Regions from separate parts of the Homo sapiens genome. Here all the other regions are reported to be linked to region 4. Evidence: microRNA targets listed by miRTarBase, many of them from high-throughput screens and not tested one by one. Region 4 holds a microRNA gene; each other region holds the end of a gene's coding sequence.
What was found. The annotated mature microRNA hsa-miR-4709-5p reads ACAACAGUGACUUGCUCUCCAA and lies in region 4 at 2,876-2,897, shown strand. An mRNA with a match to its seed (bases 2 to 7 or 8) in the 3' UTR can be bound and repressed. Matches are read on the target gene's strand: a 7mer-m8 pairs with bases 2 to 8, a 7mer-A1 pairs with bases 2 to 7 and ends in A, and an 8mer does both.

Region 1 (3,000 bases), not on the chromosome of region 4:
TTGGGGTTGCACCGGGACTATCCACAGATGTTTCACATTGATCTAGCTGTTCCAGTGCAACCCTTACTCCCAGTTATACAAGTTCTCTTTAAAATAAGTTTTGGATCTCATGATCCAATGTATTTTAGAATGTTTCTTTGTTATAACTTTTTACAACATGATTATGATGACATATTGTTAGATATTTCTATTGTTCCTGGAGGCTAATTATTATTTTCTGGTTTTTTCTCTGTTTTTTCTTTATAGTAACAAACTTTTTTTTTTCTCTTTACAGTGCCATTGATAATAGTAAACTCAATTGCAATTGTGTTACTTTTATTATTTGGATGAATATCAGTGGAGAAAATGGAGACTCAGAAGAGGACATGCCAGTAGAAGTTATTACTTTGGTCATTATTGGAATATTTATATCTTAGCTGGCTGACCTTGCACTTGTCAAAAATGTAAAGCTGAAAATAAAACCAGGGTTTCTATTTATCTGTTTTTTTTTTTAATGTTGCACTTGTAGTTTCATTACAAAAGATCAGATCATGAAAGGCAGTAACTCTCCAGGACTGGAATATCTGATTGCTCAGTGTTAATAGTAGTTCATGCTGTGGTGAGATTGTTAAAAGGGTGCAAGACTGTTGCTTCTCTTTTTTTAGATATTTTTCTATCTCTCACTTCTCAGGGATGAAATTCTTTTTCAAAGTTTTGAAGTTCCTTGCAACTTAGCCATGATGTGAGTGGTTATCCCTAGATAAAATTAAAAGGATTTTTAAAAAGTAATTACTGCACATAAAATGATAAATAGGTAATTTGAATAATTTTATTTTAAGCTCCTTGGTTAATTATTTTGTCTATTGTCTCAGCTATAAATTCAAATTTATACATACTATTGAGTATTAATATTCTCTGATTTCAGGGAGAATTCTGTCAGTCACATGATGATTATGTTTTTGTTTAACATTCTTTCCATGCACTTGTTATTTTATTAATTTGCCTGAATGATGAGACCAGACCAGTGTCTACAGATTTTCATTGTCAGAAAAATCTATAAGTCTGCCCTTTTTACAATGATGATTTAAAAAAAACAACAGCGTAAATATTAGCCCACAAGAGCAGTCCTAAACAATCACAATTACACTGTACTACCCAAGAAGACTGTTTATTGTGAAGCATTTACCTTTCAAAAAATCATTACATTTCTATTTCTTGGTGGAGCAGCACATTGTGGAGTGTGATTCTTAATTCTTCATTGAGTTTGTCAATAGGACATTGATGCTGGATAGGTTGTCTTTTGTTTTTATGTCTCAGACCATCTTGTGAGATTGTTTGCCTATCTCATAATACAGTTTTATGCAGAAAGGTTGAAACTATGTAAATGGTTTTTATGGAAATTATCAGTTACAATATTTTAAAGGTGTAGAATGGCATCTTTGTTTATAGGAGAACATTTGTAAATAAAGTTAAATTTCTAAGTCAAGCACTTGTTTTTGTACCTTAGTATAAACCTGTCAGTGTTAACTGCATTAATCTCCATTTTGGGTGAACACCTCTTATTATATGTTCTTTGCTGTAAAATTGCCGAGTATAGAGTTAATGAAAGTAAATATTTACATGTATTTTTTTTTCTTCAGTGAATTAACTGAATTGCTGACATACATCCAGAAGACTCATGAGCACCTTTTATTTCATGACTTCAGTTACTTCTAAAACTATGGAGCAGGTATTAAGTACCTTTTGGCCTTTCCTAAGTTAGAGATCAGTGATCTTTGGACTATAGGCTTGCAGCTAGTCCAAGGAAAGTACCAAGGATTCTTAGTTGATTACTTGGCTCATGTGAATGACTAATTTGGTACTTAGAGGCCGTGTTCTTTTAGCCTTACAAAGAACTGATGCCTGAGTTCAAGTTTGAGCTACTGAAAAGATTCAAAAGAAGCAGTTACTTGAGGGCAGGCCCATTTCCCCATATGGTATGAGCAGTACAAAATTTTTTAAAATGAAAGAAAAGAGAGACCTTGATCTGATGTTATTTTTCATATAAGACATTACAGCATACCTTCATCTTAATTCAGTGTTGGGATTTTGTCCAAATATTCCATCAGGGAGCAGTCACAGAAGGGCCAGGATCAAAGTATTCTGTAGCCAAGTAGTTCTGAGGAAAGTGAAGCACTGAACTGAACATCAAAATATGTCATATCTGGAGGCCACTTCATAATTCCAGTTTGTGGCTGAAGAGGGGTCTGTAAGCTTTCACTGGTCAGCCCTGGTTTCCCCAGAGCAGTTGTGATTCAGTAAACAGAGTGTGTTATTTTAGTAGACAGTAACTTAAGTGCCTGTTGGCCTGCCCATGTCCTCCCCTTTATCTATTACCAGGATTAACAATTTGTGATGATTCTGGACTCCAAATACCGATGATGTTTATAGTCCTTATGTATTCTGGCCCTGTGTTTGCATGTCTCTGAACTGTGCGAAGGTTCTTGGCTCTAGTCTGTAGATATTAACCAAATTCATCGCTAATCAAGTACAGTGGTTTTCAAACTTTTATAGTTAACAGCAGAACCAGATTTTCAAAGGAATTCTGACACAGAACTGTAACATTCCCGTATCTAAACCAGATGAGAGTAGGTCCATTTATTTGTTTTTAGTTGAAGTAGAGCTGGGATTCAAAGGCTCACTATTCAGCCTCCACTGCACTCTTGTCAGGCTTCCCAAGGCATTTCCATAAAACCCTAAATTTTCAAAAATATAGCTAAAAAGTATCTTATAAAAATCCCTGCTTTAGCCATAAAAAAGAATTAGATAATACCTTCTGTGGGAACATGGATGGAGCTGGAAGCCATCATCCTTAACAAACTAATGTAGGAACAGAAAACCAAATACCACATGTTATTACTTATAAGTGGGAGCTAAATGATAAGACCTCATGGACATAAGGAGGGGGACAACAGACACTGGGGGCTATTTGAGGGTGGAGGGTGAGAAAGAGTGCCAGAAAAATTACTGGGTACTAGGCTT
Region 2 (6,204 bases), not on the chromosome of region 4:
TCTCCCAAAGGGCTCCCAGCCTAGCACAGGGAGGCGCCAGCCCTCCCTCTCCCATCAGTGACCGCCAGCACCAGCAGCTTAGGGGAAAGAAGAATTTGGGTCCTATAAAACCATGGCCTGTCCTTTTCCTCTAGGGAAGTAAAGTCTTTTCCTTCATTGGAATGTATTTTGTTGTCATTATGTGAGAGACCTATGCAAAGGCTTTTTAACTAGGCCCTACCTCGCACCTGTGGAAAACAGGGAGATATTTAAGTCTTACCAACAGCCTGAGTTCTGACCAGACAGTGAGTGCATTTCCAAACTCCTCTGCATAGAAGATGCTTACAGGGTTTGAACCTCAAGTAGGAGGCCTAGTGACCCCGTATCCCTCAGGCTGCTGCAATTGCATTCCATTGTTAGAAACAATGGTGCTCCCACCTCCCTACCCCCTAGCCCAGAGGGCACCCAATGTGACAATGCTGCTGTACTGAATGCTCTTCCTAATATTCAGTTTAATATTTCCTCCCAGGGATAACAGTTGCCTTTGAGATAGTAATAGGCTCCCGTCCTGGCATCTGTACACAACACAGCAGTGTGGGGGTGGGGTGGGAAAAGCGGCAGCTCCTTCTGTGGATACAAGATGTTGGCTGGATGGGCCACTATGGAAGCCTTGAGGAAAAGAAAACATACTTTTGGCTTCGAATTTAAAGCACATTAAAATGTTCTTGGATTTTCTAGGTCGCTCAGTACATTAAGTTTGAAATGCCGGTGCTGGACAGTTTTGTTGAAAAATTAAAAGAAGAGGAAGAAAGAGAAATAATCAAACTGACCATGAAGTAAGCAGCACTTAAACAGACAGTCATGGGTCCTGAACATCAGGGCAGGTCTGCAAAGCACAGCACCAGTGCCGGCTGGGAGGTCTCTCTCCTCCATGGGCACCAGTACCCTGGTACGGGAAGGCCTGCTAACCCTAGCTCCCCAGCATCACCCTCTGGCCCCCTGCTCGGTATTGCCACCACGCTGGGGTGACAGCTTGCCAAAACAGTGGGACACAGCCCCGATCACCCATCCAGTCTTGGCATCCTCACCAGCGCAGGCATGAGCTGCAGAACACCTGGCAGGAAAGTCAGGCAGGAACCCAAGTGGGCGCTGGGTCAAGCTTCTGAGTTCTGCTGGTGATGTGGCTCCAAGGAGCAGGCATGCTGAGGCAGACTTGGCCTGATTAGGGCCTTTTGTCCTAGTGGGAATTCTGAGCCTTCCCCAAAGTGGCAGATGCTGGAACTCCCAGCCTCAGCCGATGTTTTCAGGTGCAGAGGGCTAGTTCAATGAAAAGGTGAGCAGGTCTCACCTGCCAGCTCCTGGGGACACCACGCCAGGGTCCGGATGCATGAGTTAGCCAGGCTGTAGTCCCAATGACGTCTCCCCCTCAGCAAAGTGAAGTGTGGTCCAGGACTTGTGGAGGGCACCCCACCAGGGCTGGTGGGGAGGCAGCTAGGAAGGAAAGGGCAGGAGCTCACTGAGAGGGCCTGGGGTGTGTGGGGAAAGGATGGATGTTAGCCTCTGGTTGAATGACCCGTGGAAAGCCACATCCTCCACAGGCTCCTGTCTGTGCAGCCAGACCCCAAACAGGCAGAGGAGACCAAAGTCAGAGGGAATCTTCCATTCTGCAGTCAGTCCTGACCCCGTAAGATTTGAGAGCTGAAAGGGATCTGGGGGGCAACTAGTGGGTCCACTCAACGTACAGAGTGGACGCTGAGGCCCAGCACAAGGAAGGTTGCCGCATAGGTTATGGCAGAATCTGGGCTGAAACATGGGCTTCCCGATCTCTGCTCTACCGCCCTGTCCACTCCAGTGTGCTGTTGTCTGTATTAGAGTCTGCAATAGAAATGACAACACTCTGCTCTGATGCTCTGTGCAGTCCACAGCCTGGTTTGACTGCACCTCATGAGGCGCAGGCCACAGCCTTCCCCCTCCTTGGCAGAGGAGAGATGAGGCTGCTGCAGGGATCTCCTGAGCTGGCCATCTGCAGGTCCCTTGCTCTGCTGCCCACCTCCCTGCCCTGTCTGGCCTCAGTGAGTCCTCTTGGCGATGTCTCCCTCCAGGTTCCAAGCCCTGCGTCTGACGATGCTGCAGCGCCTGGAGCAGCTGGTGGAGGCCAAGTAACTGGCCAACACCTGCCTCTTCCAAAGTCCCCAGCAGTGGCAGGTGTACACTGAGCCCTGGTTGCTGGCCCCGGCCGGTCACATTGACTGATGGCCACCGCCTGACGAATCGAGTGCCTGTGTGTCTACCTCTCTGAAGCCTGAGCACCATGATTCCCACAGCCAGCTCTTGGCTCCAAGATGAGCACCCACAGGAAGCCGACCCAGGCCTGAGGGGCCAGGAACTTGCTGGGTCAGATCTGTGTGGCCAGCCCTGTCCACACCATGCCTCTCCTGCACTGGAGAGCAGTGCTGGCCCAGCCCCTGCGGCTTAGGCTTCATCTGCTTGCACATTGCCTGTCCCAGAGCCCCTGTGGGTCCACAAGCCCCTGTCCTCTTCCTTCATATGAGATTCTTGTCTGCCCTCATATCACGCTGCCCCACAGGAATGCTGCTGGGAAAAGCAGGGCCTGCCAGCAGGTATGAGATCTAGCCTGCTTTCAGCCATCACCTTGCCACAGTGTCCCCGGCTTCTAAGCCTCCAATATCACCCTGTGAGCCTCGCACAGCTCAGCCCCAACACAGAGGTGAGACCAGGAATAAGGCCACAAGTATCTCACTTTCTCTGCAGAAATCAATCTTTACTTCATCAGAGAGACCTAAAGCGATTCTTACAAGGAGCTTGCTGCAAGAAACACGGTCATTCAATCACATTGAGGAGGGTCCACATGGCATTGAGAGGGTGCTGCCCGCTCAATGCCCAGCAGCAGCTCTGGAAGGCAGTGCTCAGCCCCATCACCACTGTCCCGTGGATGCCTGTGTACCTCTTGCCTTTTCTGGGCTTGCGTTTCTCTCCTCTAGTGGGTGGGGATGACTTTCAATGACTTTCAATACTTCCCCTGAAGGAAGAATGATAAGGAGAAATGTCTGTTTTGAGGAAAGGGCTTTGAATTCCCCAGATACTGAACAATTTGTGTTTGTGACTGATGGAGAATTTCAGGAATGAATGAGAAAGCCTTTGCGAAACTATGCAACAGTTTACATCAGTCATGTGAAGTATTTGTCTAAAACAGAGCAAACTGAAGACCAAATTATTCTCCTGTTGAGGTCCGTGGATGGCAGATTTAAAGGGAAGAACCACAAAGGCTTGCAAAGATAGGAGAGGCTCCATCTCTAATGCATGTAGAAGCTCCTTACGGGTGCCCATCAAGAGCATAGCTTGGAAGCCACCATGCTGTGCGGAACTGCGTCAGGGCAAATGTCACAGCAGGATTTCCCCAACCCAGCTCCATCATCACAGACACAGAGAGCTGCAGGGGAGGCCTGCCCACTGTTTTGTCGACTCTGCCCTCCTCTGGCAGCATAGATCCTTAGGTGCTCAATAAAGGTGTGCTGTATTGAACTGAAGAAGTGAGAACCAAGCTTTTTTTTTTTTTTTTGCTTTCTGTGCATCCACCCTGACCCCCGGCTCTAACTTCTGAAACTCTTATCCTAAAGGATGTGTGGCCATGTTTGGCAGAAGAGCCACAACTCGCTGCTCTAGGAGCCGACATGACTCCTTCATTTCTGTGCATGCCCTGGGGACTAGGGTGGAGCCTGAGGAGAGGCTGCCATGGAACACGCAGGCGTCACTGGTGGGAGCCTAGAGGTGACCTGGATGATGAGCAATAGAGTCACCCCGAGTCACAGAATCTTAGCATCAGGAGGGCCCCAAGAATCTTCCAGGCCAGGGGCTCAGGTGGGATGGAAGCAGGGCCTAGGAGAGGGTACAAAACAAATCAAACAGGAGCTCCCAGGTAATTGTACTCCCAAGCTATTATTTACAATCTCAGGTGGAGGACAGCTCCTGTCCCATTGTTCAGCTGTAACTGAGTGACTGCCTTGTGCCAGGCCTGTGCTCAGCCCTGGAGGCACAAAGATGGAGCCAGTCTGTCCTGTGTCTAGGGGTCTTCTCATCAGGAGAAGAAGGCCAGACACTGGAAGGGTCAAGAGATCAGCTGAGCAACGAACCGGCAAAGCTCCTGGGAGTGAGGTGGAGGCCAAGGCAGAGTTGGCTAAGAAGTGCATGTGGCGTCACAGGCCAAGATGCACCTGCCAGCTAGGAGCAGGCCAGGTCCTGGCACACAGGAAGCCAGTGGAGCAGGAGACCCTCCCTAAGTACCAGCCTGTTTGGTTGGTTGGTTTGCTTTTGAAAGTTATTACAATATTATTTAAGGCCTTTTCGGATAAGTTCACTTTTAAAGTAGGTGTTATCAATCTAATTTCTGAACGTTATGGGTCAGAAAAATCACTAGCAAGTGGCTCAGAAAAAGGGAAAAGGTACACTTCTGCAATCAGCTGAGGAGTTCACACCTTTTTTTCTAAATCAACATCATATTTGCTGTTCAGAGGCAATCTGAAAAGCTGCAAATTCAGCTCACCTCAACCCCATAATTTCAAACGTTAGAGGCTGGTCTCTGTGGTTTCCTACTGGTTCCTGTGGGGAGCTCCCGCTTTCTTTCTACATAGAGCTTAGGGTATTTCTCATATGCCCCATTGGCTACCTAGTGTCTCAGGTAATAAACGTATCCGAAGATAAAGCAAAGATTGCTATGGGAGAGTGTTGTCTCCTAAAATAGGACTGTCTTGCCAGGCCAGGCCTCAAGAACCAGAGAGAATAATAAACAGCACAGGATGAAATCAGCATGATTGCAAAAGGACTGGACTCAGGAAAAACAAGTTTGTTTGCCCAGAACAAATTACCAGAAGGGATCAAAAACATCTTGTTTTTCTTTGGTGATAACCATATGCTACCGGATTGGAATGTTTACCAGAAAATGGAATAAAGACCTTCCCACTGGCAAAATAGAGCCAGGGTTCACCCAGGATACATCTGGCCCCTTAGTCCCATGGAAACAAGGCCCAAAGCTTATCCAGTCTGACCAGATGATTTGTGGAGGAACCAGCCCTGCAAAATGTGTCCCGGGTGTGTAGGACGCAGGTGCCTTGCAGCTGCGGAGGGGCAGCGGGATATCCTTGCCAGGTGCAGTGGTGGGCAGCATCCCCCTGCCCTCAGTTCCTCAGTGGTGATCAGACAGGAAGCTTGGTCGATCAGAGCCAAGCAACTGAGTATAAAAACAGCCAGATGCATGGGCTATATTTAGGCCCTGAGAGCTGCGATTGTTTGGGATCAGGCTAGCTGCTCACGTGCCCTGCCTGAGACTCACGTTGTGCAGGGTAGGGCCCTGTGCCCTCCTGGTCAACTTTTAACAGAGATGTTTTCTCAGACCTAGGAATGGGAACTCCCAGGGTTTTCTTTCCCAGAGAGTCCAAAGGAAACAGAAAGCCAAGTCTCAGGCTTGGTGGAAAGAACCATTGTTCAGGATCCCTGGGCTGAGAGTTCTTGGTGGGAGACGGACCACTGTTGTTACCGCACATGAGCCACACCTATAACTGCCTTTCTGGCACTTGGGCTGGGGATCCATGTTGCCAAACACAGACCCAAGGCAGCAGTGCTCCCTGCTGAGACAGCGTGTGTGTGTGTGTGTGTGTGTGTGTGTGTGTGTGTCTGTGTGTGTGTGCGCAAGCCAGTGGTGTGCAGGGGACAAAGACATAGGAAAATGAAACTGTCTTGCCAGGATTTTTCTCACCCCAGAAGACTCTTTTTCCTGGAATGAACCCTTCAAATACCACTGGGCTCAGGGACACACTGGTCCCTGCTGGGTAGTTTCCCAGAGATGTCCCAGCCACTAAGGGATCTGGCCTCTCTTGGGCCAGAATCCCCAGAAATATGTGCAGAAAGATGCCCAGACTGTGTCCACCCCCTGCCTCCCACACCCTTGTTCCCTTTCTCCCTTGTGTTTTGTAAATATCATGCGTGACCATTTTCAATAATTTAATTTGCATAAAAATTGCCTAGAATCCCATTTGGGAGATAGACTGTTATAGAGAGGTTAATAGGCTCTGGAGCCAGGCTTTCTGATTTCAAAGTCTGGCTTTGCCACTTACAAATGTGCATGACCTTGGGCGAGTTTCTTGCCTCAGTTTTCTCATCTGTGAAATGGGGATTCTGTGTGGAAGAAAACAAAGTGCTTTCTACTATTCT
Region 3 (5,883 bases), not on the chromosome of region 4:
TGCACACAGGACTCAGATATGTGACAGCAGTCACAGCTCAGCTGGTCAAAGGTTTATAGTGTTTGACACCAGGACCATGAAGCTCCCATTTGGTAGTGGAAAAACCCTCAAATATTTCCTATCAACAGATGTGTGTGCTAGAGAAGAGGAAGTTGTGGAAAATATCCCAGTGATCCTACAAAACATTCTCTGTGTTCCTAGCTAGGGTTTTTTTTTTTTTTCACCTCAACAGTTTTTGTGTTTTCTTTTTTTAATCTTGTTGCCTCTGAGTAGTAGACTCTTCAATTCTGGAATTTGGTTGCCGAAGACTCTAAAGGAGAGACTCACTCAGTAATTCAGTGACTTTAGAAGCAAGCTGAGTATCTCATTCTAAAATGACACTGATTTACACTGTTGAGAATGGTTAAGTACGTGGGGTACCTTGCAGCAAAAGACAAAAAGCAAAAAGCCAGTAGACCTGCAATTCACAGCTATTCCTGAGGGGTGCACATTGCAGCCCACTCTTGAGCTCCCCAGTGTTCTGAGCAGGGGACAGGGCATACTTCTAGTGATTTGCTCAGTTTAATCCCTTCATCCAAGAAAACAGACCTTCCCCAACCACACCTGCAGGGTTACTTCAGACAACCAGCTTCTCATTTTAGAGTCCCAGTTCCTAGAATTGGAGAAAGGAAGTTCCCCTTTAAGCCCTAGGTCCTGCCCACTAGAGCAGATACGCAACATTAAAGAGTGCAAATTCAAGTCAGTTTTTCATATTTAGCAAACATCCATTGCACCCTTATAAGGTCCTCGACTTTAAGAAATTTATATGAAATCGGAAAACTTAAATCTTGAAACTATACAAGGATCTACTGGAAGCATCAGCAGGCTAAACTCATCACATGGTATTTTCATTCCAAATTTAGTGTTATTGATCAGTGTACCCTCAGAATATCCTTAAGAAGCAGGAAGGAAACAAGTTTTCCTCTTCCCACTTCCAAGACTGAGAAAGAGTCCAGATGAGCTGGTTTGCCCAAGCAATTCTTATCACCAGATACTCCGTTATTAAACGTGTCTCCTGCCTTCTTTGAAAGCAACAGGAGAAATGAAGCATAGGAAAGTCTGCAAGCTAACAGTGTATCACCTAGGAGGCTTGTATATAAATATGAAGCTCTGCAAAATGTAGTTATAATGAAAGGCACTTCCTATTACCAGCTCCCTAACTCTTTTTAAAAGAATTCTATCTCCAGGGAAATAAAACTGGTTAAGACAGTGCTCTGATATGCTTAGTTTAGTTCCTTCATCCAAGAAAACAGACCTTCCCCAACCACACCTGCAGGGTTACTTCAGACAACCAGCTTCTCATTTTAGAGTCCCAGTTCTTAGAAATGGAGAAAGGAAGTTCCCCTTTAAGCCCTAGGTCCTGCCCACTAGAGCAGATACGCAACTTTAAAGAGTACAAATTCAAGTCAGATTTTCATATTTAGCAGGTGATCTTACAAAGATATTTTTCAATAAATGGATTATGTTTTTCAATGAATGGATCTTACAAAGATGTTTTTCAATAAATGGAAGGAAAGATGTGTGTGCTTGGTTTTTTTGCTGAGACCCAAATGTTGCCAGTGCAATCCCCCACCAGGGGTACAGGTCAAATCAAAGCTGAATGAAGAGCTCATCTTCGATGTAGCTTTCCAAGCTTTCAGAACGAGACAATAATAAGTGAGCAGCTTCCTCATCTATTTTACAGGTGAGGAAATTGAGGCCAAGAGAGAGGTAAAGAGTCGTGCTCTAGCCCATGAAAGAAGGAAGCAACAGAGCCCAGATTCAACTTCAGGTGTTTCTAACTCCAAAGCCTGAACCAAACTGCCTTCCTCTGATTGGCATTGGTACCTGGAACTTCACCTGTTCCAAGGAGCTGATATTTGCAAGGTGCCGTGGCTGAGGCAGGAGAATCGCTTGAACCTGGGAGGCAGAAGTTGTGGTGAGCCAAGATCGTGCCATTGCACTCCAGCCTGGGCAATAGAGGGAGACTCCGTCTCAAAAAAAAAAAAAAAAAAAAAAAAAAGCGGCAAAAGGCACCAAGACCCAGTGCTTCCCTGACCTCTGTTCCCTCTAAATCAGCATCTATCACAGTAGATCAACCTGGATAAAGCCAGGATTCACAGCAGAAGTGGCACCTCAGACACCAAAGCAGCTTTCCTTCTCAAAGCTTTTAAACATCATTGGGAAAACTTAGAGCAAATCAAACCAATGTTTTTCAATACATGGAAGGAAAGATGTGTGTGCTTGGTTTTGTTTTTTGCTGAGACCCAAACATTGTTAGTGCAAGCCCCCGCCAGGGGTGCAGGTGGAGTCAAAGCTGAATGAAGAGCTCGTCTTCAATGTAGCTCTCCAAGCTTTCAGAGCAAGACAACCATGGACCATCCTCTTCTTCAGACTGGCCTGTCTTCTTCTTGAACAATGTCACTTTGCTCCTCACTGCTGTCATCTGTATGGGGGGAAATAAACCCAATGCTTTGTAATCAGAGTGTGATTCTATTTCCACCGTCAGTCATCAATCATCTCAGTGATTTCTAGTCCTTTCCTGGTGAGCCACAGAATGGGATCTCATGGAGAAGGTAGGGCAGCGTGTGTTTTCCCCTTTTCACCTGTTTTCTACATTCAGAACCTCTAGGCATGCTTGATACCAGTCACCCTTCATGTCCTCAGCTCACGCCCCTCCCCTCACCTGAAACGCCCTCTCTCCTTTCTGCTTATTCCAACTCAGCCGTCTTAACGCCTTGCTTCATGTCTACCTCTTCCATAAAGCTTCCCCTGACCAGCACACCTCTCCGGGCTCTTATCTTTCTCTGAGGTCCTATAAATTTTGGTGCAGTGGCACGATCTCATCTCACTGCAGCCTCAACTTCCCAGGCTCAGGTGATTCTCCCACCTCAGCCTCCCAAGTAGCTGGGGCTACAGGTACATGCCACACACCCAGCTAATTTTTTGTATTCTTAGTAGAGACACGTTTTGCCATGTTCCCAAGGCTAGTCTCGAACTCCTGAGCTCCAGCGATCCACCCACTTTGGCCTCCCAAAGTGCTGGGATTACAGGCATGAGCAACCGTGCCTATAATTTTTAAATGTGTTGTCCATCAGGCAATTAATCAAATATCTTCCTGCAACAGCTCCTCTACTGCTCTCTCAGTGTGTTGGTTCAATCTTGCTCCTGTTTCCATTTCCCCTGCAGGTTTTAGTTTGTTCCCCTAAACTGGCCTTTTTTTTTTTTTTTTTGAGACAGAGTCTCACTCTGTCACCCAGGCTGAAGTGCAGTGGCACGATCTCGGCTCACTGCAGCCTCCGTCTCCCGGGTTCAAGTGATTCTCCTGCCTTGGTCTCCCAAGTAGCTGGGATTACAGGCACCTACCACACCCAGCTGATTTTTGTATTTTTAGTAGAGATGGGGGTCTCACCATGTTGGCCAGGCTGGTCTCAAACTCCTGACCTCAAATGATCCACCTGCCTCAGCCTCCCAAAATGCTGGGATTATAGGCGTGAGCCACCGCACCTGGCCTGAACTGGTCTTGTAAAGCTCCCTGCATGCAGACACTACCAGTCTCTATTTTCTGTTCTCCCACAATGCCAATATTGTGCCTACCCTAGACCAGGACCTTGATAAGTGTTTGTCAATTTGATTTTCATGTTGGTAGTTGATAGTAGTCTCAGGTTCTAGACTAAAGTTTAGCTATCTTCCCCAGCCTTTTAAAAAAACTAAACTCACCCCTTAGAGATTTCCTGCTGGGAAGCTCACCGCAGCAGTTCAGAGGTTTGTGGGCTTTTTTTTTTTTTTTTTTTTTTCTGAGGCAGGTTTCCTACTGCTGCCCAGACTGGAGTGCAGTGGTGTGATCATAGCTCACTGCAGCCTGGACTTCCTACACTCAAGTGATCCTCAGCCTCCCAAGTAGCTGGGAACACAGGTGCACACCACCATGACCGGCTAATTTTTCTTTTTTTTTTTTTTTTTTTTCGTAGAGACAGAGTCTCACCATGTTGCCCAGGCTAGTCTTGAACTTCTGGGCTTAAGTGATCTTCCCACCTTGGCCTCCCAAAGTGCTGGGATTATAGGCGTGAGCCAACGCGCCTTTTTTTGTTTGTTTTCTGTTTGTTTGTTTAAGGAAAAAGAGCTTACCTTGAAGATCCTGGAATCCATTTCCCATCTGTTCTATGTTCCCATTCACCAAGGCGGTCACTCTGTGAATGTGGTCCTGCTTAGGTATTTCTTTTGGCAACTCCTCTCTCTCACGTGCTCCCTCCTGTTCCCCTACTGCAGCATCTTCCTCCTCCTCCTCCTCCTCCTCCTCTTCCTCTTCTGAATCCACCAAAACCATGACATCATCCATGTTTTGTCCCCTAATTTCCAAAGGGGAAAAATAATCAAGAAGATTTCTTATTTTTCCCAACTTCAGCCCTCACTGAATAGGAAACACTAGATTCTTTGCAACCCCATTAGTAATATGGAAAATTACAGCTTGGTGAAGTAATGAGGTGATGGTGTGGTAACCGCAGAGATGCTGCCACAAATTGCTTCAGATGATGGTATCTCATGCTGGTTTATTACTCCCCTGCTCCTTGGGCAGGTGACCATATTGTCCCAGGCATCTACCATTTCATGTCCCCTTACAGCAGGTAGACAAATGTTTTTCCTTTTCTGAAATGCCCTCATTCTGCTCTACTTACCAAAATCTCTCCCCTTCCTCATTTTGGAAGACCCAGGTAAAGTCCTCTCCCTCCTGCTAAAGACCTAAATTAATGACTGCATTTAGAGTCCATGCTATAGTTTATTTATCACCAGCTCACTAGCTTGCCTACCCAGCCAGACTTTGCATTTCAGACTATACATTTCTTTTTTTTTTCTTTTTCGGGATAGAGTCTTGCGCTGTTGCCCAGGCTAGAGTGCAGTGGCGCAATCTTGGCTCACTGCAACCTCCACCTCCTGGGTGCAAGCAATTCTCCTGCCTCAGCCACCCAAGTAGCTGGGACTACAGGCATGCGCCACCACATCTGGCTAATTTTTGTATTTTTAGTAGAGACATGGTTTCAACATGTTGGCCAGGCTGGTCTCGAATGCCTGGCCTCAAGTGATCCAACCACCTTGGCCTCCCAGAGTGCTGAGATTATAGGCATGAGCCACTGTTGTGCCCGGCCTGGACTGTGCATTTCTTCTTCTTCTTCTTCTTCTTTTTTTTTTTTTTTTTGAGACAGAGTTTCATTCTTGTTGCCCAGGCTGGAGTGCAATGGCACAATCATGGCTCACCGCAACCTCTGCCTCCCAGGTTCAAGCAATTCTCCTGCTTCAACCTCCCAAGCAGCTGGGATTACAGGCATGCGCCACTACATGCGGCTAATTTTTTGTATTTTTAGTAGAGATGGGGTTTCTGCATGTTGGTCAGGCTGGTCTCGAACTCCCGACCTCAGGTGATCCACCCGCCTCGGCCTCCCAAAGTGCTGGGATTACAGGCGTGAGCCACTGCACCCGGCCTGGACTATGCATTTCTTAAGGAAGAAGAATGAACGCCACAGGTCAGTCACCTGCCCGAGGAGCTGTGTTACATTGTCATTTAATCTTCACAAACCCCCTGGTGAAACAAATCAGGAGACTAAGGCTCAGAAAGGGTCAGGGATTTTCTATGGGTACAGGGCTTGGGAATGGCACAGCTGTCATTTGAACCCAGGTCCAATGGTCTCAGTGCCTTTTCCTACTACACCACACTGATGCCTCCAGTGAGAAATAAGCCCAGGGAATGACAGACTTACTAAGAATGGCCCTCCAATACAGGGCAGTAAAGGTAATGTTTTGCTACGAAAGATGGTCCCAGGTCAATAATATCCTGTCATTTTGAAGAGGTAAAGAACTGTTTTTCCATAG
Region 4 (6,204 bases):
GTTGGGTCATATTTTTCAACAAAAATTCCCTGAACAAACTGAACCATCAGAGCAGACTGCCCAACACCTCCTGAACCAAGGACCACTAGCTCACCCGTGATGTGGTCTGTTTAAATACTGATGATTCCCCCAGTCTGGCACCTCCTCCACCTCCTCCTCCCTCCTCCCTCCTCCCTCCTCCCTCCTCCCAGCTGCGGCTCCTGCTTCGGCTCTGCACAGCAACGGCTGATGCCATTTTTATATACAATATTTCACTTGGATCTCATGACCATCCTATGTAGAGGTGATATTATCTCTATTTTACAGCTGAAGAAATTTGAGCCTCTGAAGTTATGCAATATGAACAGAGTCCACTCCACTAAGAAGCAGTGGAGCCCAGGTTTTGAGCTGGGTCTTATAACTCCAAAGCCTGTGCAATGTTAAAAGATTTTAGCCAGGTACCAAATAATTAAAGATCCAAGTTGTCTTAACATTGTCATCAGAAAATCCTGGTTTCTCCATTAATCTCTTAACAAAACAAGAGAGCAGTAGTTTGTTAGCTCCATGGCAGAGAGGTAGCTTTTTCCAGCCTTCTTTCTGCCCTCCAATCCCCACCTTCACCTCTGACCCATCCCTGCTGCACCTACCTCTTTTTCTACCAAGCACTCATAAGGTAGATCCTGCTGCAGTGGACCTGTATTAAAGATATGTATCTTGATAAGAATGGAGGAAATAGAGGGATGGCCTTTTTCCATGAAGAAAAAGAGCCGCATTTCTTGAAATCAAGTAGAACTCAGGAGCAATATCTGGCCATTTATTTTCTAGGAAAGGTAAGTAATTAAAGAACATTCTAAAGAGACTCAAATATAGGATGTCTGTGCTTAAGGGCTGTTGGAGACCTTAGAGGTCAGGGACAGATTAGTAGATGAATATCCACATAACCATGGGCATGTCTGAACCTCAGTTACGTATGCAGTGACTAGTCAGAGCCTGATACGTAGTAGGTACTTAATGTATGGTAGTTATTGTCTGTTAAATGAGTTACATTTAATTTGAAAAATAGCTCAAACTGCTTAAGCACTAAATGAAGCAGTAGTTAATGTATACTAGTCTGGAAAAACTCACAAGGCAAGTTTCAAGAACCTGAATATCAGTGCCACTCACATGTTCCATTGTGAAGAAACATTAGAGTACAAAAGAGAGGTAGTAACTAGTGACAAGTAAGCTAATGTCCACATAAGAAAGGACCTGCAGAGTGTCAGTGAGTTATCAAGAATTGGAAGGGACCACTCACGTGATATGAGTGTAACAAGTCAAGGCAGGGATTTCTGATGAAGTACATTATTAGAAAGCAGTTTAAGGGCGTTAACTGAAAGTATATTGCTACAAAAGGTTGTCATCCTTGAAATTATTCATACAGCTACAGACTTCTCTAGGCCATCTTTTGTGCTTTGACATTTCCATTTCTAGCTAACAAGAACGTTTCCTTATACCTAAGAATCTAAATTTTTTTTACTCTCTGCTCTTCATGGTTACATTGGGAAAAAGCTGGATCAGATTGCCAAATACATGAGAAATTGCTTAAATGTGAAATTATTCATGTAAGCCTTCATGTGTTAGTCCATTTGCCTTGTTGTAAAGGAATACCTAAGACTGGGTAACTTGAAAAGAGGTTTGATCAGCTCACGGTTCAGCAAGCTGTACCTGAAGCATAGTGCCACCACCTGCTTCTGGTGAGGCTTCAGGAAGCTTACTGTTAGGACAGAAGGCAAAGGGGAGCCAGCGTGTCACATGGCCAGCACTAAAGCAAGAAAGAGAAGGGGGAGGCCCCAGACTCTTTTAAACAGCCAGATCTCATGTGAAGTCAGTGAGAACTCACTCATCACCAAGGGGACGGTGCTAAGCCGTTCATGAGGGATCTTCCTCCATGATCCAATACTTCCCACCAGGCCCACCTCCAACATTGGAGGTCACATGTCAACATGAAATTTCAAAGGGACAAATAACCAAACCGTATCACTTCATTTATATGCCATTGATCTAAGAGAGAAGAGAATGCTTTAGAAATTACATTTGATAAATTAACCAAGTTAGTATGTGGTGCTGCTAGCATCAAATCACAAGTATAACTTTGTTCACTCTCTTAAGGCTGTAAGCTGTGCCCACATGCTAAGCAGCCCTCATGATTTAAGAAAAAAAGTATGAGGAGTTAGGAAGTTTGCTACTGTACATCTAGGATTCATAGTTAAACCAATTATGGATAGAAGTCAGGTCCTATTTTCATTTTTCTCAATTATTTTTCTCTTTCTCCAGATAAAACTGGTGGTGGAGTGGCAACTTCAGGATGACAAAAACCAAAGTCTCTTCTGCTGGGAAATCCCAGTACAGATCGTAAGTCTATCTGGGGGTGAGAGGGCATGGGTGGAGGGAAGAAAGTGGAGGAGAAATCAGACTGAAACTAAATCAGTGCCATAAGATAAAAGGAATTTCAAGACTGCTGTTTTATGCCTCTCAACCTCTAAAAGCATCTGAGACCCTATTTCCTGAGAGCTCAGAACTGTTGCCTTTGTAATATCCTTTGTTAAAAAAAAAAAAGGTTGAAGGAAAGAAGAGAGAGTGAGACTGTAGAGATTGATTTAACTGTCTTCATTGGTTTTTTTCTGTCGGAGTAAGGAAGGTCCAGCCAGACAGGACCTGAAGGAGGTTGCTTAGGAATGTCTGATAACTTGCCCTAGGGTTATTGCCCTGACAGTGGAGGAAAGGTTCCAAACCACTTCCACTGAGCTGGGACATTACATCCACAGGTTTCTCATCTCTAAGTGCCTCATTGAGTTCGGTGCATCTGGCCAATGAGTCTGCTGAGACTCTTGACAGCACCTCCAGCTCTGCTGCTTCAACAACAGTGACTTGCTCTCCAATGGTATCCAGTGATTCGTTGAAGAGGAGGTGCTCTGTAGCAGAAACTGAGCTCCGGGTGGCTGGTTCTCAGTGGTTGTCTCATGTCTCTTTTTCTGTCTTAGGTGGTTTCATTAAATGCAGCACTTGGTTAGCAGATGTTTAATTTTTTTTTTAACAACATTAACTTGTGGCCTCTTTCTACACCTGGAAATTTACTCTTGAATAAATAAAAACTCGTTTGTCTTGTCTTCTGCATGTGGGCTGTGGTCTTCTCCTGCTCCTTTCAGGGTACATTCTGCTAGAACCATGGAAGGCAGGCCCCCAGTTCCGTGGTCCCAGAGTGCACTGAAGACATGACTTTTTCAGAAACTCTTTTTCCTCCTTTTTGTCCAGTAAGACCATATCTATTTTATATAAAATGGCCTTGTTTTGCTTTATTTGACACAATCTTATACCACCAAGCATGCTCGAAAGAAGCAGTGAAAGTAAAAATCACCTAGTTGAATAATAACGCCTGAAAGGTTGAAGGAACTGAATTTGGTGGGGAGGGCAGGTAGGGGTTAGGGATTACAGGTTAGGATGAGGCATGGTGATCTTTTGGGAACACTGCTGTGAAGAAAGCCTAGAAGCTTAAAAATGAAATGTGAAGTTGTAGCAAGTAATGGCTAAATTAATTAAATCTTGGAGTTTCCTATCTTAAAGTACAAGTATAATCATGGGCATATATTTTGCCACCTATTTTGAGTCAGTATACTAGCAGTCAGCTCTTAGGTGGTACAGGGATTACAACCCCATTCACAATTGAGTTGAATAACATGGACCTTAGGTCATCCATTGTTAGGGCAAAAGGAAGGAACATTCATACAAAGTGCTTGTGAGCAAGTGATTGATTTGATCCAGTTCTTTTCATCCCACTAATTTCACTAGACCCTTGGATTTCTTTGGTCTGTGAGTTTCCCAGGAAAACCACCAGGGGACAGTGATGGATCAGGAATACAGTTATCAACAGCCAAGCTTTCCTAGTTAATGCTAGGAGCCAGTCAACCAGTGTACTTTTTACCTAAGATCTTTTGTGTATCCTGCCACATTGAGTCTAGAGTGACAGTCCACCTTGTCTCCCATACCAGACTCTAGATGTATCAGAATTGTGTGAATTCCTGAGGCTGTTAACTGTTGTGCGGGTCTCTGGCTTCGGACTGCCTATGGTTGAATCCTGGCACCAACAATTAACAGGACTACCAGTGTGATCTTGAAATCACTTCATCTCTCTGTGTGTCAGTCTCCTTATCTGTTAAATAGGACTAATAATAATAGGGCTGTGAAGACTAAATGAGATGAGGCATGTAAAACACTTAGAATGACCCTGGCTATAGTATATACTCTCTAAATGTTAGCTGTCACTCTGGGAGACAGACATTCTTCTTTGTCTACAAATAGCAGGAAAATTAGAAGGTTCAATCTGAGATTTGATGATGTCTCCTCAGAAGGATGAGGCTATCCTCTGTGCACAAGAACTTTCTGAAAGGCCTGGAAAAGCTCAATTCTCATGTGTCCACTGTCTCCCTATTCCCAGAAGATTTCTCATGCCATTTAGCTCCTTTGAAGTTAACAGCTACCCACCCTGCATACTCCTCTGCCCTTGTGTTAAAAGAAGACAGGACTCACAATACCATGCAAAATGAGTACTTGCCTCTAGCTAGGAACAGTGCCTACTTCAGGGAGAATTGATTTTGATACAGCTGACTAGTTTGAGTGTTAAACTATTTTGGAAATAATTTACATATCTAAGTTCTAAAATATATTTTTCTTTCCTCCACTTATTCTTCAAATTTGAAACAATGTTTTAATACTGTATATCTTTCATTGTTTATAACTTGCATTCTTTGTGAAAATTTGTTCTTAGGGACAAAAAAATTCTTAATCTTTTTATGTGTAAAGCAGGAACAGACAGATAATACATAAACAGATACATATTATATCTGCGGTATTAAAATTTGGTGGGGTGGTCGATTAGGATTAAAAGGTCCATAAAAGCTCCTGTAAGGAGTGATAATGAAAAGGGTGGGGAAGCACTAAAGACAAAGAGTATAAGTAGATATTTCAGAAATCGAAATTAAAAAGTATTTCGGCTAGTTTATACCCTTCCATCAGAGCAAAAGGGGAACACAACAGCTTGTGACTGTTTGCCAGCCATCGCGGGGCTACATGAAGCCTGCAGCCGTGAGCTAGGTAGGGCTCCCGTGGGGGGATTAGTTTGAAAGGTCGTCTTCTACAGACAGTTCACAGACGCCCCCGTGAGTCATTAAAACATTGAGAAGCACTGAATCTTAGGTATATCAAAAAGGTCATCCTCTTTCCAATGACCGTCTCATGCTTTTCTAGTCCACGGAGCAGGTTTTGGAGGCTCAGCTCTTACATGAATTCCAGGACAGATAAATCCCAGATTCTAATTGTTGAAATAATAATGAGGGGCACCCCTGCTTATAGAATAAAGGGAACCCAACACCTCATATCTCCAGTTTGGGAAAAGGTTAAATATGAAGACTAGTATTCAGTCAAATCTTCATACTAATAAAAAGCAACAAGCATGGAGTAATTTTAAATCCTGCATATTTGGTTTTTAAATCTTAGTTGACTTTTTTTAAAAGGAACAGAGTGATCTTTTTTTTTTTTAACACAAAGTCTTTCAGAAAAGAAACAGGGTGATCTTGATTATGCTTTGGAAAGGTTGATAAAAACAGCTTGTTCTCTGAGAACACCCTCCAGACATAGGAAGAGTGGCTTGAAATAGGTGAGGTCAACTAAGAGAAAATGATCTGGGATCAGCCATTCACTTCAGATAATCCAAAAAGCAATGGTTAAATGGGTTGGTACAAGGACAGGGTTACAGTATATAAGAAAAGCATTAGCACAGAAAAAGGAGTCGTGTAAGAAAGTCGCCAAGGTGAAAGTCACGTTAAACAAGTGTTTTTCCCAAGGAAGAGACAGAACAGGAAATAGAGGTTGGGGTATGCCTTATTTAAAGGCCTGGAACACTCAGGCGAGGGTGTGTGTGTGTGTGTGTGTGTGTGTGTGTTGGGAATGGGGCTGGGGGGAGACAGGGTTGTGTGTGTGTGTGTGTGTGTGTGTGTGTGTGTGTGTGTGTGTGTGTGTGTTGGGAATGGGGCTGGGGGGAGACAGGGTTGAGTGACCCAAAGTAGAAAGTGGCTCTGGATCTCCACAGATGTTGCCTGAAAGTCTTTGAAGGATTTGAGTCATTTTGGGTGGTTGTGTCTTTTTCTCTGAAGAGAATTCCTCAGCCTATCCCTAGATTCTAAACTGAATCCG
Region 5 (6,204 bases), not on the chromosome of region 4:
ACAATGGCTGGAGACATTTTTTTTGGTTTTTTTTTGTTGTTGTTTTTTTTTTTGGTTTTCACAAGAGGTGAGGGGAGAGAATGCTACTACTGTGTAATGGGTAGAGGCCAGAGATGTTGTGCAGTATCCTGCAGTGTACAGGACAGCCCCCACAACAAAGAATTATCTGACCCATAATGTCAGTAGTATCACTGTTAAGAAACCCTGGGCTTGATGATAACCAAAGAGTATGGAGCAGGGAATCTTCCTTAGCTAGGACCCAGTGCCTGGTAGGAGTGGACTAGATGAGGGACAGGAAGCATACCCATGAAGTGAAACTGCAAAGCAGAGGTTCCAAATGAAACGTAGCAGTGTGTTTGATGTCTGCTCCATGCCAGAGCGGAAGCCAATAGGGCAGAGCATGGATCAAGTAGAGCTCAAAGGCACATGTGTTGCCTGGTAAGGCAGGTTCCTGGTTTTTTTTTTATTATTAAAAATAACCCCTCACATTTACATTACACTTCAGAGTTTACAAAACATTTTCATATATGCCATATTATTTCATCCATACAACACCCTAATGAGGTAAAGCAAGGATTATTCTTTCTCTTTCTTGAATTTAGAAACTCAATACCATCAGCCAAAGAAATGTTTGCTGAATTGAACAGAACTGACATTTGCCTCATTATATATAGGTAGTCTCAGACAAGTCAGATACTTCCTTGGACCAAGTGTAAAATGACAGGGTTGCATGGAATGATTGGCAAGGCTCCTTCCAGTTCTGACCTTCCAGTAATTTTGTGATCTTTGCCAACACACAAATTTTGAGTCTTGGATGACTGCAGACTGGGGTGCTTGGGAGTACTGGCTATGAAATCGGAGATCTTAGGTAAGATGCAGTGGCCTTGATCCAAGCCCTTCTTCCTCTCTACCCCCTGGATCTTGGGGTTAGGTTGGTGAGGCCCCCTTGAGAGACCACAAGTAAGTCCTCCCATCCCTCTCCTCTGAGGTGGGAAGGGGCTGGCACATGGGCTGATGCTCTTTCCTCTCCCCACAGGCTGTCTACAAGGCCTGGCTGTGCTCAGAATACTTCAGCGTGACCCAGCAGGAATGCCAGCGCTGGGTGCCCTGCAAGCAATACTGCCTGGAGGTGCAGACCCGGTGCCCCTTTATACTCCCCGACAATGAGGAAATGGTGTACGGAGGGCTCCCTGGCTTTATCTGTACAGGTAAAGGCAGGGCACTGGGGAAGAGGGAGGAGGCCGGGGGCCCAGGGCAGGCATCAGGTCAGAGGAGTTGGGAGCAGGGATAACAACAGGGGAGTCAGGTGAGAAGAAGGCCAGTGGCTGGACGAATGGGCAGTGACGTCCCCAGGTTGGGATAGGGCCAAGTGGAATAGGGAAAAAGACCAGAGTGTCCTTCTCTGCCCAAAACATGTCCAGGGAGTCATCCCAAAGAAACTGGCTGGGGTCCCCAGGAAAGAAGGGCTCAGAAAGGGCAAGTGTCGAGGGCTGTGGGGAGGGAGCCTTAGATGAGGCTACTTGAGCAGCCCCAGCTCTGGAAACTTGCTCCCTAGGTAAGGCATAGCTATCAGCTCCCCGAGCACCCCACCACACCTTCCTTATCCATTGGCAGGGTTGCTGGATACTTCACCAAAGCGTCTGGAAACCAAGTGCTGTGACGTGCAGTGGGTCTCCTGTGAGGCGAAGAAGAAGAAGTTCAAGGAGTCTGAGGCCCCCAAAACCCACCAGCAGCAATTCCACCACTCCTATTTCCACCACTACCACCAACAGTACCATCACTACCACCCCCATCATGATCCCCCAGGCCGTGTCAGCAACAAGCCCGCCCTGCTGCCGGTCTCTGGGGGCTCCCGCCTCAGCCCTAGCAGGATCCGGCTCTGCGTCCTTGTTCTCATGCTCCTCCATACCGTGGTGTCCTTCTCCAGCAACCAGGGTGGTGGGGGATTGGGGCTGGAGACACTGCCTGCCCTAGAGGAGGGCCTGACACGGGAAGAGTGACAGTAGGGAGGGAGGACAGACCTCCACCACACTGACATCAGCTCCAGCTCCCCCAGGTTGGGGGGGAGGGGGCTCCTCCCATGGGAGGTGTAGGATAAGGTGGGGGCGGGGGAAATGGGGGAATGACACATCCCCCCCAACCTACCCCCACCCCAAAAGCAGCTCCAACAGAATGGCCAGAGGGCCTCAGGGAGCTGCAAAACTCATCCAGGAGAAAAAGGCAGGAGCAGCAAGTGACCCCTCCCAAGCTCCCATCTATGGGGCTTAGCAAAAAAAGGGAGGAAGTGGGGGCTGGATATGCCCACCCCTGCCAAAAGCCCTGACCCCAGGGAAGGAGGCTGCTCACCCAGCCTTGGCCCTGCAGGGAATGTTGGGGGGCACAGAGGGGAGAAGCTCTTTCCCCCACTCCACATTCCTTTTGTTGCCAAGATCCTTAATTCCCTCCTGCCCATATCCCTACAGGCGACGGCAGACAGTGCAATGGCCCTCCTGCCACTTCAGCACACCTTGCCCCACCTGGGACCATCACACGTGAAGCACCAGGCTGGGAGATGAGGTGCACACAGTTGCAGCTAGGTCGGGGCCCCAGTTAAGCTGTGCCCCACCACCCTAGGCAATGAGGGGCAGGAAAGGGGTACAGAATGAATGGTGAAAGAGAGTGGAGATACGGAAGGGGGAGAGGAGAGGAGAAATGTGGACAGAGGGCTTGAAGACATGGCCGAATAGGCTACTGCCACCCGGCTTTGGGGAGATGGGCGATAAGTGTTGAGGTAGGCTCGAGAACTGCTCCCCAAATCAGTGAGAATTGCATTAGGAGCCCTCTGGGGAAAGAGCACAGGAACTGAGTTGCTGGGCCTCAAAACAAAAGGCTGCAGGCACATGGTTAGACTGCCGCTGTCTGAAGGACCATATCTTACAGAAGGTGCACATACTCCCAAGGGCCACTCTTGCCCTGGAGATCTTGGCCTTGGGGCCAAAGACATTTCCATTTCCGATCTCCATGGGGAGGAGGGACTTAAGCCCAAGTGGGTCAGGCCTGGCCCAGGTCCTTATACTCCCCTATCTTGTCCTAGCCCAGGCCTCCATGAAGGAGAACCTGGTGGCATTGCCCCAGAGCTCTCCAGAGATGAGCCTCCCCTATCCCCACCCTGTCCCCGTCCCCAGCCTACCAAAGAGTATTCACACCTTTCCATCCCTGACTCTATGGGTTACTGTCCCAATTGCGAAACACCCATACTCCTCTTCACCCTGTAGCAGGGTCTTCTGCTCCAGTCACCCCGGCCTCTTGCAAGAGAAAGTCCAGGGACTGGCAAGAAGACCCTTTGACTAAAGATAATGTGCTGTCATATCTTGGCTGAGAAACTGTTGAGTCAGGCTAGAGGACTGGACAAGAGAAGAGGCATTGAGAGCCCCCTTGGGAGCCATTAGCCTTGCTCTGGTCTGCTGTGTGGGGTTGGGGAGTAGGGGGGATCCCACATTGCCTGGGACATCTGAATGCTGATACGAATGGACAGGAAAGGGAGCCAGAGCTGTATACCTGGGACAGGCCAGGGAGCCTTTAGTGCCAGCAGGGCCTGTGTCCTGGGATGTGATGCTAGTGAGTGAATGGGAGGGCGGGCCTGGAGCTGCGTGAGAGTGAAACCAAGAAGCGGATGGGGAAGGGAGAGCTGGCCTTGGTCAGCTTAGGGATGAATGGAGAAGGAATCATTCATGGGCCTCGGCTAGGTCCCAGACTGATTACATGAGACTGGGGAGTCCTTCCCTGCCAGTTTTCTCATTTATTACAGCCTATCCCCCAACCCTACCCCTGTGCCCTGCCTACACACTCCCGTTTGGCCCTCAGCACTTTGGGCCTGGTCACATACCCCATCCCTAGAGTGCTCTTTTCAGCTGGGGAGGGGAAGAGGTGCTGGCTCCTTTCCAGACATGCTTATGTATAAGTAAAGGGGCAGGTGCTTGGGCTCCAGAGAGACCCTAGGTACTGCCTTCTAACTCCTGCATCCTCAGAAGGGGAAAAGGGACTGGGAAGTAAAGGGAAACCATATGGCCCCAGGGAATGGACCCTTGGAGACTCCCATCCTCTCTTCCCCCTCACCAAGTGCCCAGGAGACCCCTGGCTCAGACCAGCCCAAGGCCTTGCCCAGTGGCAGGGGAAAGGGGCACCTCACTCCACCTCAAAGTCATTTGACTGCCCCCATCCACCCCACCACCCTAATCTTCCACCACCTCTCCGGCTGCCCCTGCCCTCCATCACAGACAGCAGAGCCGGGCAGCTTTCTTATGCCATTTTCTACACTGTGCTTCATGAGTAGGACTTTCTTGCACTAGTTCCTATGACTGAGTCTCCAAACTGGTTTCCTAGTAGTCCCCCATCCCTTCCTCCCTTACCCAGCTATGATTCAGTTGTCTCTGCCCTCCCTCTTACCCTGCCTCTGTGTTTCGGTGAGAGTCTCTGTATATGTACTGCTTTCTGTTTTGTTGCATTGTGGGGCAGAGGCCTCTCTGCTCTTGTTTAACCCCATAAAGAAATAAATGGTAAGACTTGATGATAACCCTCCCTTCATGGCTTTGTTCTGTGGAGTTGAGCTTGCTGCATTAGGAAAGTCTGTGGCTTGGGGAGGGGGTGGGACCAGAGATGTTGACCCTGTGCCCAGCTCTCTGTCAGCTCAAATCTCAGGAAGAAAGGGTAGACTGTAGTAGACCATTCAAGACAAGGACTCACAAAGCCAGCCACCTGCAGGGATCAGGCAGATCACTGTACAGAGTGAAGTAGGCCAGGTTGGGGAAAAGTGCAGACTCCAATTTGAGTGCTGAGAACTGCAGGACATGTGCAAAGGAGGCAGCTGAAGCCCAGGGTTGTCTTGGGGAATGTAGGTCCAGTGTTGCCAATCTTCTCATTCTTCAAGGGAAGTTAGGACTGGGGATTCTAACATGAAGCCCCCTAATTCATAAATGTTGGCTCAAGTATAAAAACTAACAAACCTACCTCCATGAGGGCTAAACAAGTCTGTAGGCTCTACATGGCCTGGGGATTGCCAGTTCTTGCTTTTGTTGCAGCCTTCAGTTCTAGTCTGCCAGCCTCATCTCTCCTACACCTCTTAACCAGACCCATCGTCCCACCACAGAAGGAAGGTCACTTGGCGACAACTGCTGGAGGGGTGGAAGACAGGGCTCTCCATCACTAACACTGCTTTCACATAAATGGGGAAAGGAGAGCATGGTCAGGAGAGAGGCTGGTGTCCTGACTGAGCTGCCAAATTACTTTTCCAAGAAAACATGAGCCCACTCCACTTCCCCAAAAGCAGCATAACATGGAGGTCACAGCATGGTCGCCGGAGCCAGACCATATGAGTTCCAAGTCTAGCCAGCGCCATTGTTACGGCATCTTTGGGGTGTCACTTTTCTGGCCGGAAACCTCTGTGGTCAGTGACACTTTTGCCCAAGTTCTTGTCCTGCATCCAGGAAGAATGAAGTATGCAGACAAGTGGAGGGTGAGCAAGACAAAGAGGGGCTTTATTGAGTGTTAGAACAGCTCAGAGGGGACCCACAGTGGGTAGCTCCTCTGCAGGCAGGTCATCCTGTCATCTCTGCAGCTCTCAGCAGAGAGGAGGCCCTGGAGAGGGTAGCTCCTCTCTGCAGCTGGTAGTCCTGACATCTCTGCAGGTCTCTGAAGCTCTCAGCAGAGAGGGTAGCTCCTCACTGCAGCTGGTCATCCTGTCATCTGCTCAACTCTGGCTGAACCCAGGGCTTTTATGGGCCTCAGAGGGGAGGAAGTGTGCACCGATTGGCCCATGGGCAGCCATGGGCAGGCCCAGAAAAGGCACCACAAGTTCCCACTCCAGTCTGTGGGACTGGCAGCCTGGCCCCCAGCCTTCAGACCCTTGCTGGCCTGAAGGTGGGGCCTCACCGGGGACCCGCCCCCTTTCACCAAGGAACCTATCTGCCTTCTGCTGCTGTTCATGGTGCCCAGGCTTGGCCCAACTTTGCTCCAAGATCAGAAGAGGCGCCAGCAGCAGGGAGAAGGCAGGCAGCGGGAGCAGGCACTTTTGAGCCTGCGAGCGCAGGGGGGCCTTCCTGGGCCCCTACAAGTGCTGGGATGCCTGAGTCTGCAGCCATGGTTTGGGCGGCTGCACTGTGCCTGGCGGAGCAGGGCTCCTGCCTGCTCCATGGAGCAGGAGACCCAGGTCTGCAACCGTGGTTTGGG

Region 1: miRTarBase lists IER3IP1 as a target of hsa-miR-4709-5p. Seed matches in the 3' UTR shown: 7mer-m8 at 623-629.
Region 2: miRTarBase lists RASSF4 as a target of hsa-miR-4709-5p. Seed matches in the 3' UTR shown: 7mer-A1 at 3,220-3,226.
Region 3: the mRNA of VSIG10 is a reported target of hsa-miR-4709-5p. Seed matches in the 3' UTR shown: 8mer at 226-233 and 7mer-A1 at 122-128.
Region 5: the mRNA of NALF2 is a reported target of hsa-miR-4709-5p. Seed matches in the 3' UTR shown: 8mer at 3,362-3,369.

Annotation. Positions count from the first base shown.
Region 1 is chr18:47,153,507-47,156,506 of GRCh38, reverse strand. It overlaps IER3IP1 (immediate early response 3 interacting protein 1), which reads left to right. Exons shown (of 3, transcript NM_016097.5): 3 at 275-3,000. The coding sequence ends at 330. Among named protein-coding and RNA genes, the nearest start is that of HDHD2, 4.5 kb to the right of the region's middle.
Region 2 is chr10:44,991,188-44,997,391 of GRCh38, forward strand. It overlaps RASSF4 (Ras association domain family member 4), which reads left to right. Exons shown (of 11, transcript NM_032023.4): 10 at 718-815; 11 at 2,082-4,704. The coding sequence ends at 2,142. LOC124902530 reads left to right here and starts at 2,849. Exons shown (of 3, transcript XM_047426129.1): 1 at 2,849-2,984; 2 at 3,618-3,754. The coding sequence starts at 2,849. ZNF22-AS1 (ZNF22 antisense RNA 1) reads right to left here. Exons shown (of 4, transcript NR_126421.2): 4 at 2,745-3,019. RefSeq lists enhancers at 1-506, 536-1,037, 1,038-1,537.
Region 3 is chr12:118,064,231-118,070,113 of GRCh38, forward strand. VSIG10 (V-set and immunoglobulin domain containing 10) reads right to left here. Exons shown (of 9, transcript NM_019086.6): 8 at 4,147-4,367; 9 at 1-2,464. The coding sequence ends at 2,409. The region is part of intron 1 of LOC124903030 (a long non-coding RNA gene); the gene reads left to right. Among named protein-coding and RNA genes, the nearest start is that of WSB2, 6.0 kb to the left of the region's middle.
Region 4 is chr14:74,476,868-74,483,071 of GRCh38, reverse strand. It overlaps MIR4709 (microRNA 4709), which reads left to right and starts at 2,868; the gene lies at 2,868-2,939. It overlaps NPC2 (NPC intracellular cholesterol transporter 2), which reads left to right. Exons shown (of 5, transcript NM_006432.5): 4 at 2,293-2,370; 5 at 2,784-3,132. The coding sequence ends at 2,798. It also overlaps a transcript of SYNDIG1L not described here and the pseudogene RAP1AP.
Region 5 is chrX:69,527,957-69,534,160 of GRCh38, forward strand. It overlaps NALF2 (NALCN channel auxiliary factor 2), which reads left to right. Exons shown (of 3, transcript NM_015686.3): 2 at 1,037-1,208; 3 at 1,615-4,552. The coding sequence ends at 2,000. Among named protein-coding and RNA genes, the nearest start is that of NALF2, 27 kb to the left of the region's middle.